Regions from separate parts of the Homo sapiens genome. Here region 2 is linked to region 1. The links come from fine-mapping of genetic effects on gene expression. Tissue or cell type: testis. Region 1 holds a variant in brackets; the other region holds the start of a gene. All regions are shown on one strand. Distances are from middle to middle.

Region 1 (8,262 bases):
GACAGGCGTACACGTACAGTGTGATATTGTTCCTAATATCCAAGAAGGGAGAGGATGATATTACTCCCAATAAAACAGTGGGTGTACATTGACCCTGTGTTATTGTCTCTAATATCCGGGGCCGGGGGAGGTGGGGAGAGGATAACATTCCCTCAAATTTAGCAGGTAGTTTGATGCCCCTTGTGGTGTTGTTTTAAATATCCAGCGGGGAAGACAATAGTACTATTTTTGAAAGTCCGATTCATCCATTCCACCTTTCCGGAACTCTGAGGCCGGGAGGTGGCAGGCAGTTTCCGTGTGATCCCCAATACCTTTGCCGTCTTCTGTACCAAGGCCGCCAAAAACGCAGGTCCGTTATCTCAGCCGATCCGTAAGGGCAGTCGAAATCTAGGAATCAGATTTCGAAGAAGCACAGGGGTTATCACGAGCTTTCTCAGTTCGTGTTGGATAGGCCTCCACCCACCCAGAGTAGGTACACCCAAGAACTAGTAAATACTTGTTACCTCCCCACTTTGGCATCCCTGTGAAGTCTACCTGGAGATCTTCAAAGGGGGCTGCTCCATAAGCTTGTATGCCGGGCGGAACGGCTGCACCTTGCCTCGCATCATGCTGTCGGCAGGTAACACACCGCTGCCTCACCGTTTTGGCAAGGGCTGACAAATGTGAGATGTAGAAACACTGGCCTAACAACTTTTCCAGTGACTCCTGACCTCGATGGGTGGTTTCTTGTCCAACTACAGCTCCTAGCAACTGTGGCGCAGCTACTCTCCCATCTGGTAACCGAATCCATCCTTCCTCCATCACTTGTCCTTCCCTCTACCTGGAGAAAGTCCTTTTCTTCTTTAGAAGAAGTAGGTCCAAGATCAGGTGCTTGAGGGAGCACTGATGCCCGAAAGGGGGCAGATGCTGCTTTTCGAGCCTCTGAGTCAGCGCGGGAATTCCCCAAACCCAGCAAGGTGGAAGCTCGCTGGTGTCCTCTGCAATGCATAACTGCCACCTTGTGGGGTTTCCACTCTGCTTCTAATCATTGCGAGATTTCTTGTTGATATTTTCTGTCTTTTCCCCCAGAGTTAAATAGGCCTTTTTCTTTCTATCACGCTCCATGCACTTGAAGGGTTAAAAAGACATACCGGGAATCAGTGTAAATGTTGACAGTCTCACCCTCACTGAGTTCTAACGCCCCAAATGAAAGCAATGAGTTCAGCTTTATGGGCTGCGGTGGCCTGGGGCAACGACCTGGTTTCAACAACAGTGTCCAGGGTTACCCCTGCACACCCTGCACCTCTCTCTCCTTGGGGGTTGAAGAAGCTGCTCCCATCCACGTATAGTTCCCAGTCTACTGATGCCCAAGGCTGGTCCCGGAGGTCAGGTCTGCTAGAGTCAATTGAGTCCAACACTTCTACACAATCAGGCTCGACAGGGCTCTCTGATACCGGGAGCAAGGTGGCGGGGTGTAGGGTGTTACAAACTTCAATGGTTATATGGGGATTTTCACAGAGCAAAGTTTGGTACTGGGTGAGTGTGGCATTCGTTAGCCAATGGTGTCCTTTAGTATTCATTAAAGTCACCACAGCACAGGGGGCCTTTATGTTCAGGTTTTGCCCAAGAGTCAGCTTATTTGCTTCTTGTACTAGCAGGGCAGTTGCTGCCAAGGCCCTCAAACAGGGGGGCCATCCTTTAGAAACCCTGTCTAGTTGTTTAGAGACGTAGGCCACCGGCCTCAGCCAGGGCCCCACAGTTTGGGTTAAAAGTCCAGCTGCCATCTTTTCTCTCTCTGACGCATACAATGGAAAAGGCTTTGTCAGATCGGGTAGCCCCAGGGCTGGGGCTGCCAGAAGTTTTTACTTTAACTCATGAAAGACTTGCTGTTGTTGGGATCCCCCTTGCAAAGGTTCCCGGTCCCCGCCCCCTTTGTGATCTCATAGAAAGGCTTGGCTAATACTGCAAAGTTTGGAATCCACAGTCCACAAAACCCCACAGCTCCTAAGAATTCTCTCACCTGCCTTCTGCCCTTAGGCTCTGCTAGATTGCAAATGACCTGCTTTCTTTCTGATCCTGGGCTGCGTTCCCACCCCTGTCAGATAGTAAATCCCAAGTAAGGTACCTGCTTTCGGCAGCTCTGAGCTTTCTTCTTGGACACCTAAAACCCACAGTCCTCCAGGTGGGTCCTAAGGATCTTAGGATCTGCGATGGGGTTCCTAAGCCAGGGGGGGAAGAGGGGCTGGCTCTCAGTCCCCACCCTGCGGTGGGTGCCTCCCCACCCTGTGCTGGGCGTCCTAAGAGCCAGAGGGGGAAGAGGGGCTCGCTCTCACTCCCCGCCTCCCAGGGGGTGCCTCCCCCCGCTGCGATGGGGGTCCTAAGAGCCGGGGGGAAGAGGGGCTGACTTTCAGTCCCCATCGCACGGGGGGTGCCTCACCCTCCTGCGATGGGGGTCCCAAGAGCCGGGGGAAAAGAGTGGCTGGCTCTCAGTCCCCGCTTCGTTGGGGGTGCCTCCCGCCCCCCATGGGGGTCCGAAGAGCCAGGGGGGAAGACGGACTGGCTCTCAGTCCCCGCCTCGTGGGGGCTGCCTCCCCCCTACGACGGGGGTCCTAAGAGCCAGTGGGGGAAGAGGGGCTGGCTCTCAGTCCCGGGCTCGCCGGGGGTGCCTCCCCATCCTGCGATGGGTGTCCTCAGAGCCAGGGGAAAAAAGGGGCTGGCTCTCAGTCCCCGAGCCGCGGGGGGTGCCTCCACCCCCGCGATGGTGGTCCAAAGATCCAGGGAGGGAAGAGGGGCTGGCTGTCAGTCCCTGCCTCACGGGGTTCCTCCCACCCTGCGATGGGGGTCCTGAGAGCCAGGGGGGGAAGAGGGGCTGGCTCTCATTCCCCGCCTTGCATGGGGTGACTCCCCCCCCTGCTATGGAAGTCCTAAGAGGCAGGGGGGGAAGAGGGGCTGGCTCTCAGAACCCGCCTCGCGGGGGTGCCTCTCCCCCCTGCTATGGAAGTCCTAAGAGCCAGCGGGGGAAGAGGGGGTGGCTCTCAGTCCCCGCCACTTGGAGGTTGCCTCCCCCACTGCGATGGGGGTCCTAAGAGCCAGGGAGGGAAGAGGGGGAGAGGATGATAATAATTCCAGCATCACAGGCAGTGTTCACCCAGCCTGTCAAATTGTTATTAATATCCTGAAAGGGAGAGGATGATATTACTCCCCATAATAGACAGATACGGCTCCCCATAATAGAGAACGAGGTGTACACCCACCCTGCAATATTCTTTCCAATATTCAGAGGCCGAGAGGTTGATATTACTCCAAATATCGC[A/C]GTAAGTATACACCCCTGTGTGAGATGCTCCTTCATAATATACCAAGGCGGAGGGGGTGATATGACTTCATGTATGGCAGAAAGTGGAAACCCCCAGGGATGTTGTACCCACGATCCTGGAGGGAAGAAGATGATATTACTTTCAATATGACAGAAGGTGGACACGCCCTCACTGATATTGTTTCTAATTTCAGCGTGGGAGAGGAGGATATAACACACGATATCGCAGGGAGTAGAAACACCCCTGTGATACTGTTCTTAATATTCAGGGAGGAAGAGGATGATATTACTCCCAGTACAGACAGGTGTATACCCTCTGTACACCGAGGGTGTACACCCATCTGTGAAACAGTTCATAATCTCCAGAGAGCGAGAGGATATGACTCACAATATGGTAAACAGTCTGTGAGTCCACCTTGGATCCTAAGAGCCAGAGAGGGAAGAGGGGCTGGCTTTCAGTCACCACAGCATGGGGGGCCTTTATGTTCAGGTTTTGCCCAGGAGTCAGCTTCTTTGCTTCTTGTACTAGCAGGGCAGTTGCTGCCAAGGCCCTCAAACGGGGGGCCATCCTTTAGAAACCCTGTCTAGTTGTTTAGAGACGTAGGCCACCGGCCTCGGCCAGGGTCCCACAGTTTGGGTTAAAAGTCCAGCTGCCATCTTTTCTCTCTCTGATGCATACAACGGAAAAGGCTTTGTCAGATCGGGTAGCCCCAGGGCTGGGGCTGCTGGAAGTTTTTCCCTTAACTCATGAAAGACTTGCTGTTGTTGGGATCCCCCTTGCAAAGGTTCCCGGTCCCCGCCCCCTTTGTGACCTCATACAAAGGCTTGGCTAATACTGCAAAGTTTGGGATCCACAGTCTACAAAACCCCACAGCTCTTAAGAATTCTCTCACCTGCCTTCTTCCCTTAGGCTCCGATAGATTGCAAATGACCTGCTTTCTTTCTGATCCTGGGCTGCGTTCAGACCCCTGTGGGATAGTAAATCCCAAGTAAGGTACTTGCCTTCCGCAGATCTGAGCTTTCTTCTTAGACACCTAATACCCACAGTCCTCCAGGTGGGTCCTAAGGATCTTAGAATCCGCGATGGGGGTCCTAAGCCAGGGGGGGAAGAGGCACTGGCTCTCATTCCCCGCCTCACCGGGGGTGCCTCCACCCCCTTCGATGGGGGTCCCAAGAGCCAGGGGGGGAAGAGAGGCTGGCTCTCAGTTCCTGCCTCGCTGAGGGTGCCTCCCCTACCTGCGATGAGGGTCCCAAAGCCAGGGGGGGAATAGGGGCTGGTTCTCAGTCCCCGCCTCCCGGGGGGTGCCTCCCCCCGCTGTGATGGGGGTCCTAAGAGCCAGGGGGGGAAGAGGGGCTGGCTCTCAGTCCCCTCCTCCTGGGGGATGCCTCCCGCCAATGCGATGGGGGTCGGAAGAGCAAGGGGCGGGAAGAGGGGCTGGCTCTTAGTCCCCGCCTCATGGGGGGTGGCTCCCCCCCTCCGATGGGGGTCCTAAAAGCCAGGGGGAAAATTGGCTGGCTCTCAGTCCCCGCTCACGGAGGGTGCCATCCCCCCTGCGATGGGGGTCCCAAGAGCCAGTGTGGGGGAACAGCGGCTGCCTCTCAGTCCCCGCCTCGCGGGGGTGCCTCCCCCCCGCAATTTGGGTCCTAAGAGCCAGGGGGGAAAGAGGTGCTTGCTCTCAGTCCCCGCCTCGCGGGGGGTGCTTCCTCCCCTGCGTTTGGTGTCCTAAGAGCCAGGGGGGGAAGAGGGGCTGGCTCTCAGTCCCCACCTCGCGGGGGGTGACTCTCCGCCCTGCGATGGGCGTCCCAAGAGCCAGGAGGGGAAGAGTGGCTGGCTCTCAGTCCCCGCCTGGCGGGGGGTGCCTCCCTCCCTTGCAATGGGGATCCTAAGAGCCAGGCTGGGGGAAGAGGGATTGGTTCTCAGTCCCCGCCTCGTGGGGAGTGCCGCCTCCTCTCCCTGCGATGGGGTCCTAAGTGGCAGGGAGGGAAGAGGGGCTGGCTCTCTTTCCCCGCCTCGCGTGTGGTGCCTCCCCCCCCCACGTTGGGGGTCCTAAGACCCAGGAGGGGAAGAGTGGCTGGCTCTCAATCCCCGCCTCGCGGGGGGTGCCTCCCCCCACTGCGATGGGGGTCCCAAAAGCCGGGGGGGAAGAAGGGCTGGCTCTCAGTCCCTGCCTCGCGGGGGGTGTTCCCCCCTCTGTGATTGGGGTCCTAAGAGCCATGGAGGGAAGAGGGGCTGGCTCTCAGTCCCCGCCTCGCGGGGGGTGCCTCACCCCCTTGCAATGGGGGTCCTAAGAGCCAGGGGGGGATAGAGGCGGAGAGGATAATAATTCCAGCATCGCAGGCTGTTCACCCAGCCTGTGAATTTGTTATTAATATCCTGAAAGGGAGAGGATGATATTACTCCCCATAATAGACAGATATGACTCCCCATAATAGAGCACGAGGTGTACACCCACCCTGTGATATTCTTCCCAATATTCAAAGGCCGAGAGGTTGATATTACTCCAAATATCACCGTAAGTATACACCCCGGTGTGAGATGCTCCTTCATAATATTCCAAGGCGGAGGGGGTGATATGACTTCATGTATGGCAGAAAGTGGAAACCCCCAGGGATGTTGTTCCCACGATCCTGGAGGGAAGAAGATGATATTACTTTCAATATGACAGAAGGTGGACACGCCCTCACTGATATTGTTTCTAATTGCAACGTGGGAGAGGAGGATATGACACGCGATATCGCAGGGAGTAGAAAAACCCCTGTTATACTGTTCTTAATATTCAGGGAGGAAGAGGATGATATTACTCCCAGTACAGACGGGTGTACATCCGTCTGTGAAACAGTTCATAATCTCCAGAGGGGGAGATGATATTACTCACAATATGGTAAACAGGCTGTGAGTCCACCGCAGATCCTGAGAGCTGGTGGTGGAGTGGGTGTGTGGGGCTGGCTCTCAGTCACCACAGCATGGGGGGCCTTTATGTTCAGGTTTTGCCCAAGAGTCAGCTTATTTGCTTCTTGTACTAGCAGGGCAGTTGCTGCCAAGGCCCTAAAACAGGGGGGCAATCCTTTAGAAACCCTGTCTAGTTGTTTAGAGACGTAGGCCACCGGCCTCAGCCAGGGCCCCACAGTTTGGGTTAAAAGTCCAGCTGCCATCTTTTCTCTCTCTGATGCATACAATGGAAAAGGCTGTGTCAGATCGGGTAGCCCCAGGGCTGGGGCTGCCAGAAGTTTTTCCTTTAACTCATGAAAGACTTGCTGTTGTTGGGATCCCCATTCCAAAGGTTCCTGGTCCCCGCCCCCTTTGTGACCTCATAGAAAGGCTTGGCTAATACTGCAAAGTTTGGGATCCACAGTCTAGAAAACCCCACAGCTCCTAAGAATTCTCTCACCTGCCTTCTGCCCTTAGGCTCCGATAGATTGCAAATGACCTGCTTTCTTTCTGATCCCGGGCTGCTGAGTTCGGACCCCTGTTGGATAGTAAATCCCAAGTAAGGTACCTGCCTTCGGCAGCTCTGAGATTTCTTCTTGGACACCTAATACCCACAGTCCTCCAGGTGGGTCCAAAGGATCTTAGGATCCGCGATGGGCGTCCTGAGCAAGGGGGGGAAGAGGGGCTGGCTCTCAGTCCCTGCCTCGCGGGGGGTATCTCTCCCCGCTGCGATGGGGGTCCTAAGAGCCACAGGGGGAAGAGGGGCTGGCTCGCAGTCCCCGCCTCCTGGGGGGTTCCTCCCCCCACCGCGATGGAGGTCTCAAGAGCCAGGGGGGGAAGAGGTACTGGCTCTCAGTCCCCGCCTCACAGGGGGATGCCTTCCCCCCGTACTATGGGGGTCCTAAGAGCCAGGGGGGAAAGAGGGGCTGGCTCTCTGTCCCCGCCTCACGGGGGATGCCTCCTCCCCTGCGATGGGGGTCCTAAGGGCCAGGTGGGGAAGAGGGGCTGGCTCTCAGTCCCCGCCTCACTGGGGGTGCCTCCCCCCACTGCGATGAGGTCCTGAGATCCAGGTGGGAAGAGGGGGAGAGAATGATAGTAATTCCAGCATCGCAGGCTGTGTTCACCCAGCCTGTGAAATTGTTATTAATATCCTGAAAGGGAGAGGATGATATTACTCCCCATAATAGGCAGATATGACTCCCCATAATAGAGCACGATGTGTACACCCACGCTGTGATATTCTTCCTAATATTCAGAGGCCGAGAGGTTGATATTACTCCCAATATGGCAGTAAGTATTCACCCCCGTGTGAGATGGTCCTTAATAATATTCCAAGGCAGAGGGGGTGATATGACTACATGTATGGCAGAAAGTGGAAACCCCCCAGGGATATTTTTCCCACGATCCTGGAGGGAAGAAGATGATATTACTTTCAATATGACAGAAGGTGGACTCGCCCCCACTGATATTGTTTCTAATTGCAACGTGGGAGAGGAGGATATGACACGCGATATCGCAGGGAGTAGAAACACCCTTGTGATACTGTTCTTAATATTCAGGGAGGAAGAGGATGATATTACTCCCAGTACAGACGGGTGTACACCCTCTGTACACCGAGTGTGTACACCCGTCTGTGAAACAGTTCATAATCTCCAGAGGGGGAGATGATATTACTCACAATATGGTAAACAGGCTGTGAGTCCACCGTGGATCCTAAGAGCCAGGCGGGGAAGAGGGGCTGGCTCTCAGTCACCACAGCATGGGGGGCCTTTATGTTCAGGTTTTGCCCAAGAGTCAGCTTATTTGCTTCTCGTACTAGCAGGGCAGTTGCTGCCAAGGCCCTCAAACGGGGGGCCATCCTTTAGAAACCCCGTCTAGTTGTTTAGAGAGGTAGGCCACTGGCCTCAGCTAGGGCCCCACAGTTTGGGTTAAAAGTCCAGCTGCCATCTTTTCTCTCTGTGACGCATACAATGGAAAAGGCTTTGTCAGATCCGGTAGCCCCAGGGCTGGGGCTGCCAGAAGTTTTTCCTTTAACTGATGA
Region 2 (8,000 bases), 36 kb after region 1:
TGTGAAGGTTTAACTGAGAAAGCATCTGTGAACGCATCTCCCTTCCTATGTGGTATTTGGGGGGCATCAAGAAGATCTCAGTCCCTGTTTTCTGTCTGTGCAGTTAGAGGTCCACGACTTGGGCCTGGAGGGATATGCCAGTTTCCCTGGCTCCCAGAGAGAGGAGGGTGCTTGGGCATGGTGTTTCGAGAACCTCCTACTTGGACAAGTTTCTTATTTGTGTCAAGCCCATTCTCCTCCACTCCATACTTGATTCCTGCCATGGGCACCACTGGTCTCCATCCACCCAGCCTGCAGATAAGCCAACAACAATGTTATCTGTGGCTGCCAGGCCCTTTGGGGCAGAACTCCTTTGTTGGCAGTCTTGGCTCCTGTGGGGGTTCTGGGTGGCTCTGGGTTCGGTTGGGTTGTGAGGGCCCGAGGCAGGGCCTGGTTCCTGGTGGATGTGCAGGGAGCATTCACTGGATGAATGAGAGTGAGGGCTCTGTAGATGGTGGGGTGAGACCTTCGTCCAGCAGGAGCTGAGCAATAGCCGGCTTCTCTGAGACAAAAAGAAATAACCAGACCAGGCACTGTTCAAGGTTCTGCCCCCTGGGAGTACTTCTCCTCACCACGGTCCTTCAGGGATGTTCTGGAAAGGGGCTGCAGTGCTGCCATGTCCACTTTAGGACTTTGAACTCAGTCTACCCTGACTCTGAAGCCACAGACTGTGATGTTCTACTATTGCTCACACCCCACTTTGTTTAATCACCAAGCTTCTGCGTTAATATTCTTCCAAAGAGCTCAGTCCAAAGGCAAGAAACTCTTCTCACTAGAAAGTTTCTTTGTTCAGCCGAAAATGACCTCCATTCCGGACCAGCTCTCCGCATGCCTGCGCATGGATAGGACAGGTGTCCTGAGATTCTGTTCTGCTGCTGCCTTCCCACATGCCCCTTTAAACACTTGAAGACAGTTATTGAACCTTGCTTCTAGGTTTTTCCTCACTATCATGTTCAATTGCAGTCTGACCACGTGGTTCCTTGATTCCCTTCTAAAGCTCTGCCCTACCCTAATTCTTGCTGCAGCCATGACATATCCCAAGACAGACACCCACCTGTGAGATTACATAGATTTTATTTCCAGGAAAAAACAAGGTTCTTAGACAGCAATCAATTGATAGAGTCAGCTCCTGGACAGCTGTGCTAATTCCACAAATGTTTCTTGAGCACTTAGCACATGCAGGACACGAGGGCCAGTTCAGGAGGAGCTCTCAGAGCCCACTCATTTCCATCAACAGCAGGGAGGAAGAATGACTGTCAGATGTCAGGCACATAGTGGGCGCCTCTCTTCCCTGATCCCAACCTCCTTTGATAGTAAGAGGCAGGGACCAGTACTAGCCTCACACTGTCGTGGGTCCCAGAGCTAATGCTGCTTGTTCCTGCTGCTACCACGGATGTTAGGTGTTGATGGGTACATTACTTGCCCCGAGTCACTCAAGCACACTGTTGCAGACAGCACTTCTGTACGGATGCCGAAGCAAGATCAGAAAGGTCTAGCTGTTGGTTTGTTTATCTTCCATGCGTTTTAAGAGCTTTTTATTAACTTACTATTATGTGATCTAAGTAGCGTGCAGAAAAGGACTGTCATTTCTGCTGATCAGCACTTCCTGGTTACGAAAATACAGCTCAGCGTTGTCTGCATTTTTGCGGCCTCAAGATTTCGGGTCCTTGTAATGCTTAATTCTCTTCAACATTTTGTTCAATTTGACATTTAAAGAATTTTCTGTGGTTGTTCCTTTTAAATGCTGAGGAGGGTTTTAGGTAAGCATATATTGCGCTTAAAAAGTACTCAAGATGTAATAGTGGTATATTGTTTTAGTTAAGTTGCAAGCATTTTGTCATTAATCTATCATTTATCATGTTTTGGCTCAAATATATACACACATGCAAACACACACCTAAACAGATACAGCAATGGATGCTCACACAGATGTTTAGGGTAAAATATACACGCAGAGAAAGGCATACAAATTCATGATAACCCCATTTACCATGGGGACAATTCTATAAGGGCTTAAAATCATTGCTTCATGTATAAAGGCATCAAAAGACCACATTTGTTCCTCAGGATCATGGTCTTCCTTGTGTATACACAGTAATGAAACTTATATGACTCTCAAGTATCAGAAATCCAGTGCTCCTACCAGCCATAAAAATCGATTTGTGAGGACTGAGTCACCTAAGAAGCATTTGTGAAATTGTGAATACTGCTGAAGGTTGCACTTGCATGCTGTCGGCGATGGGCAGTCAGTGACGAGGGTGAAGGCAGTAGAGAGAATAAAGACACGCTCTTTATGGAGCAGCTGGGAGCCATCTCTGTGCAGTGTGGCCATCCCAGACAGGCCGACATTTAGGACACTGACAAAATAGTCCTGATGCTTCCCCTGGTGAAGGCAATCCCAGGTTGTCATTGAGGAATATCATGGCACATCCCACGTGCATTGCTGGGATGGGGAAGTCAAGGCGTAGGGCAGTTTCATCACCCTGGCCAGAGAACCCCAGGTTCAGCTGCAGAGGAGTGATTGCCAAGGATGCAGTGGAGGGGGTGGGACCCATAGAGCCTCGGGGACCAGCTCACAAGTTCTGTGTTTAGACTCATGCAGAGGAGGATGATCTTCCAAGGGCTGAGGTTGAAGGGGTGTCAAACTCCAATGGAAAAGGTTTAGGAAAAGACCTTTTACAAATCCAAAGATGTTTCACAGTGGGCGAGGCTGGTGTGGCGACAGTAGTGGCCCACATGGCTGGGTTGGGAGCCAGCTCTGCCCATGAGGTGCCGTGTGGCTTTGCAGTGTGGCCTCACAATCCCAGCTTTGTTTCTTCCCCAGGGAGATGAGGCTGGTGATGCTCAAGATCTCAGAGGCCCTGCCCAGGCTGAGTATCTGTATATAATATCCCCCTTGGGGAGGTAACCTTCTTGTGGTTATGACCTTTTTCTGCATGCGCCCTACAATACTTAGGAGTCTGCCTCCTACAGCTGGGCGATGTAGCTCAGTTGTCAGGCACTCTGACTAGAGAGTCAGACTGATGAGGGTTTGAATCTATCATCCTGCTCAGAAAAATGGGCATGATACCAGTGCCCCTCTCAAAGGGGTGCAGTGAGGACATGAGTAACTAGAAGCATCCATAAGAGCTTGGTCAGTAGAAGGCTCTTGTGGAAGAGGAGCTCCCAGAACCCGGTGGATTGGGTGCAGAGCAGCTGCTATGATGAACGATATAGATGTTTCCCTTTGTTGTATTCCAACTGGGTAACAATGGGCCTGCTGTTCTGGGAGGGGCCTGAGGGTGGTCCATCAGAGCACATCGGTCCAAGCACACTCGAAGGGCAGACATCTCTTTGGCAGGACGTCTGGAACATGGACAGGGATCTGAATGAAGATGACAGTAAGTAGAGCCTCAAAGATGGCACGGAAGACTGTGTGGAGATATTTTAGCCTGCATTTGAAGAGGACCTAATCTGACCTCTAATATGTTGGAAGTTATGTATCCATAGTCTTTTCTAATAAGCTCTGTAGCTAGCACTGTGTGAACTCTTCCATCTGCCCTAAATGCAGTCCTGGGTCTGCATCTGGATTGCCGAGAGCACCCCTTCCTTCCTTCCTTCCTCTCGTGTGTAAAGCCTACCTGTAGCTTGCGATCTCTTCTTCCGTTATGAGCCTTTGGACAATGGAGAAGGAAGGTGAAAGATGAAATTGAGAACTTTTCTCTCTATCACAGTGACACCATGCAAACCTTATATTCTTTTCCCTTTTTCTTCTTTTCTCTAGTTGACAGTGTCTCCTGCTCCCAGCCAAATCTAAGTGAGATTTTCAGGATTCTTATTTCAATCACAATTGGATTCAGTTCTTAGATGATGTTAACTCTACAGAAAGGTCGGGAAAAGGCTTCACTCGTGATCTTTCTCTAGCAAACGGCCAGTTCGTTCATTATCGCTTATGAAACATAGCCCAGGTGACCCCATCCTGTCACTACCGGGACAGAAATACAATGGATTCTCAGAGCTATTTAAAAACATGAAGGAAATGGTATTTCAGGAAGAAATGTGCTATGTTTTAAAAAGGGAAATTTTTGAATCCGAATTTGAAACAGGCAGTGCAGAGGGGTGGTGGTTGCCGGTGGCGGGGAGTGGGGAGGGGAAGAGCATGAGACTGAGAAGTGGGAGGCCAGGGTTCAAGTCCTGGCTCTGCTCTGAATTGGCTGTGTGATCTTGGGCAAATCACTTAACCTCTCTGAGCTGCAATATTCTCATCTATAAAACGAGATTGGTTTAGGTCTCAATCTGAGGACCATGAGGGTGTGGGCAAAATGCTTTTTGAGCATGCTTTTTGGGAGATGTAGAGAGAGGTCTATAGCTTTCATTTGAATCCAGAGAGATCCATGACACTAACACAACTTCATAGTCACCAGACTTGATGACACTGGAGCTTCTTTGCAGGCATAACACTCTTTCTTGTCTTTAATGTTGATATCTTAAAGCTTTAAGTTTTAGACCTGAAGCAGAATATGAAATTAACCTATACTAAACTTAGAGAGCTCAATTTAAATTTTGTTGGAATCTTTTTTCATATTGAAGTGAAAGACTGCCTGGAGATATTTTAGCATGTATTGGAGGAGGGCTTAATCTGACCTCTAATATATTGGAAATTGTATATCCATACTCTTGTTCTAATAAGCTTCAAATAACATTCTAATGCAATCTTTTTTCTTCAAAACACTGTTTATTAGCAGTCTTTCCATTTATGATTAGAGTTTCTCATAGTAGCAATGGACTAGGTCAGATCTGGACTCAAACCTATGCTCTGCCTCCTAGTTTCTGGGTGACTTTGCTCAAGTCACTTAACCTCTCTGAATTTCATTTCCCATAATTTTTTTTAAAGGGATGGTGTCATCTTGCAGGATTGATCAAAGATTCGTTGGCTACAAAGTGCCTAATACATCACCAGCCCAGAGTAGACATGGAGTCAATATTGACTCTACGAAATGATCAGGTCCCCAGAACTTTAAAAGTAAACTGCTATTAATGGGAAATATTATCTTCTGTGAAGTTCCTGTTTTGACCTCATGCCTTTTGGTGAGCAAGGTGAGAGAAAAGTGAAGTCTTTGGGCCCATTACAAGTCTAGGAACCCTGAGTCTTTCATAGGGTTGTCCTGAGTGCTGGTCTCAGATGTGATGGAACTCAGGTGAGCACTTGGGGTTCACTGCAAGGTATAGAGGCACCCAGGGAAACTTTTAGAAAAAGTTAATGAAATCAGAAACCAGGTAGATTTTTTTTTCCCCAAGTGTCAGAAAGGGAGCCTGCTACAGGCCTTACATAATTTAAATGTGCCTGTTTAGGGGAGAGGTGATTGCCCATTTTATCCAATCGAGTTAATGTTCCAGGCACTATAGTGTTGTCCCATCACTTTTCAGGTCTATAATATGAGTGACTTCAGGGGGAGAAAACCTTTCTCCAGTGATACGTTTTGGGACAAAAGTGCATGGATAGGAACGTTCTGGGATGTGGCACCCATGTGCAAATCTCCTCAAGGAGGCCTTTGACCATCACCTTCAGGTGCTGGCTGTCTACAGCATCCCTGACCAGGGCAGCATCTCCTACTTTGGCTGGACCACTTCCAGTGATGGTCTGGTTCTATTTCTATAGTCGAGACTGTCCAAAATTCTTTCTTACATTGAATCGCTATCTCTCTCCCTGGAGCTTCTACTCTTTGGTCTTGATTCCAGGCTGCAAGTCTACTCAGAATGTCTGTTCCCTGTTTAAGATAAGAGCCCTGTAAGTCTTTTCTTTTCTAGCCTAACCAGATCCTGTTTCTTCAACAATCCTAGAGGTAATCACTCTTTTCTTAAAGTGCAGTGTCCTAGCACAGAGCGGAAGAGAAAAAAATCCCCTCCCTTATTCTATATACCATATCTTTTGTGATAGAACTTACTTCTTTGATTGCAGACTGAAACCTTTTCCAGAAATGGTGAGCAAAAGCCTCTTCAAGTAAGATGGGCTATAAATACAGTCTCTGGTAATTTTAGGAGGCAGCTTTTCTGGTCTAGGACTATAAGACATGGGTTGTACCTTTTTACTCCTGGGCATGAGTTCCTGTGGACCCCCGTCCACAGGGGCAGGATTGAGATCACGAGTGAGAGCCCTGGTCTGGGGCCACATCGCCATCACCACCCCTGACCCAGTGCTGAGCAGCTGGGACTCTCCCTTGGTACCCAGGCCAGCTCTGCTCCCAGAAGTCTTGTTCATAGAATGCCCCTGCCCTCCACGACTAGGGATGGAAAATTGATACTAGCTTTCAGGCTCTCAGTGTATCTTGGTGAGAAAGGGTGCTGGACTTCTTGGCAAGGGCCAAGCTGCCGTTAGCTGTGGTGACTGACGGGGGATCTCAGTGTTTTTCACACATCCCGTGGATGGAGGCACAGCCACCGGAATGCAGCTTTCCCAGCTAGGTTAGCCCTGGCCTCTAGGGGCCCATCTGGTCTTTCCCACAGGCTGCACACTTCGGGAGGGGGATAGTGGTTCCGGTAGCCCCTAATAGGAAGATACAGCATCTACTTTGGGGAGTGAGTAAGAAATAAAAAGCTTCAGTGAAATTGTTACAGCTTAGACAGGATCCCCAGGCTCTCCTGAATCAGTTTCCAGAGTCCCCTCTCATCCATTGTCTCATTTGCTCCTCTCAGTGACCCTACTCCCTGAGCCCTGCTTTTAGGGAAAGGAAATCAAGGCCCTAAAAAATTGAGTGATTTTTTCTCCCCAAAGACTGCGTAGCAGGTTAGGTATTTTGTGCTGTGGTCATTGCTGGGAAAATGAGGATGAATAAAACATTGATCTACCTTTGGGGTACTCCAAGTCTGGTGGGGGACACAGACCCCACATGGACCTTTTACAAAGGATTCTTAAGAAGCCGTTTGGCAAAACAACAGTGGAGAAGTGGAGTGGAGTGCCAAGGGGCACAGGACAGGGAGCCGCACTCAGGCAGGCTTTGGAGACGGGGAGGTCTAAGCTAAGTCTGGAGGGGGTGCCCAGTGGTGCCGCTGGCAGAACCAGCCCCAGCCAGGGCTGGGGAAATGGCACAGGGTGTGTGAGGGTGAGTACAAATGTCTGTATCATGAAGCCACAGGGCACCTCTGGGAAGCCCAGTCCCTGTGTGGCCCTGTCTTGGCATGACAGCACTTTCTAAGAAGCATTAATTTCATATTTCAAATAATTGAAAAATATTGACAAATAACAATCTCAAATAATTGAAAACAAAAATTGCAATATTTGCTGCATTCTTGCTTGGCAACCCAGGGTGGCCTACATAACTTAAAGCAAATCTTCTCCCAACCCTTCACCCATTTCTCTTGATGTTGGTCTCACGGCATGGTGAACATTTGCTTCCCCAAATATTTTTTCAATGGCTCCCAAACCAACTATTCATGCTTCTCTCTCCAGCAGGCTTGCCTTTCTCCTTCCTTCTTTCTTTCTGTTCTCCTTGTCTCTTTCCTTCCTTTTTTCTCTGTGTTCTTTTTCCCTACTGTTGCCGTCTTCCACAGTTAGCTGCCTTACCTTCTCTCACCCTGGTCTGCACATGTAGGAGGCTTTTCCTTGGCATGTGGGCAGATGAGAATCCTTTCTTCCTCTCTTGTGGGTAAGGGCATCTAATGTAGGGACCTTACCTGCCAAATTCAGGAGCTTGGATTTAGCTGTGGGTAATAGTGAGTCACTGCAGGGGTTAGGTGAGGGGGTGATATGATCAGGTTTTCTGGTCTTGCTAGGAAGTACTTGAACTACTGTGACCAATTATTTGTTTGTTCTTTGTGGCAAAAACAGAACTTCTTTCTTTTCTTTCTCTTAGGATCACCTGTCATTCTCAAGTTGTTTTTATTTGTGATAAAATATACCTGACATAAAATTTGCCATCTTAGCCATTTGTAAGTGCCCAGTTCAGTAGTATTGTTCATTCACGTTGTTGTGCAGCCATGACCAT

What was found. PIP is the estimated chance that this variant, and not a neighbour inherited with it, causes the effect.
Region 2: it holds the start of SSUH2, and the variant in region 1 is fine-mapped to the expression of SSUH2 in testis (GTEx, PIP above 0.99).

Annotation. Positions count from the first base shown.
Region 1 is chr3:8,675,790-8,684,051 of GRCh38, reverse strand. It overlaps a transcript of SSUH2 not described here. Among named protein-coding and RNA genes, the nearest start is that of SSUH2, 35 kb to the right of the region's middle. The variant A/C (reference allele first, on the strand shown) is at 3,293.
Region 2 is chr3:8,640,150-8,648,149 of GRCh38, reverse strand. SSUH2 (ssu-2 homolog) reads left to right here and starts at 3,352. Exons shown (of 12, transcript NM_001256748.3): 1 at 3,352-3,419. The coding sequence starts at 3,392.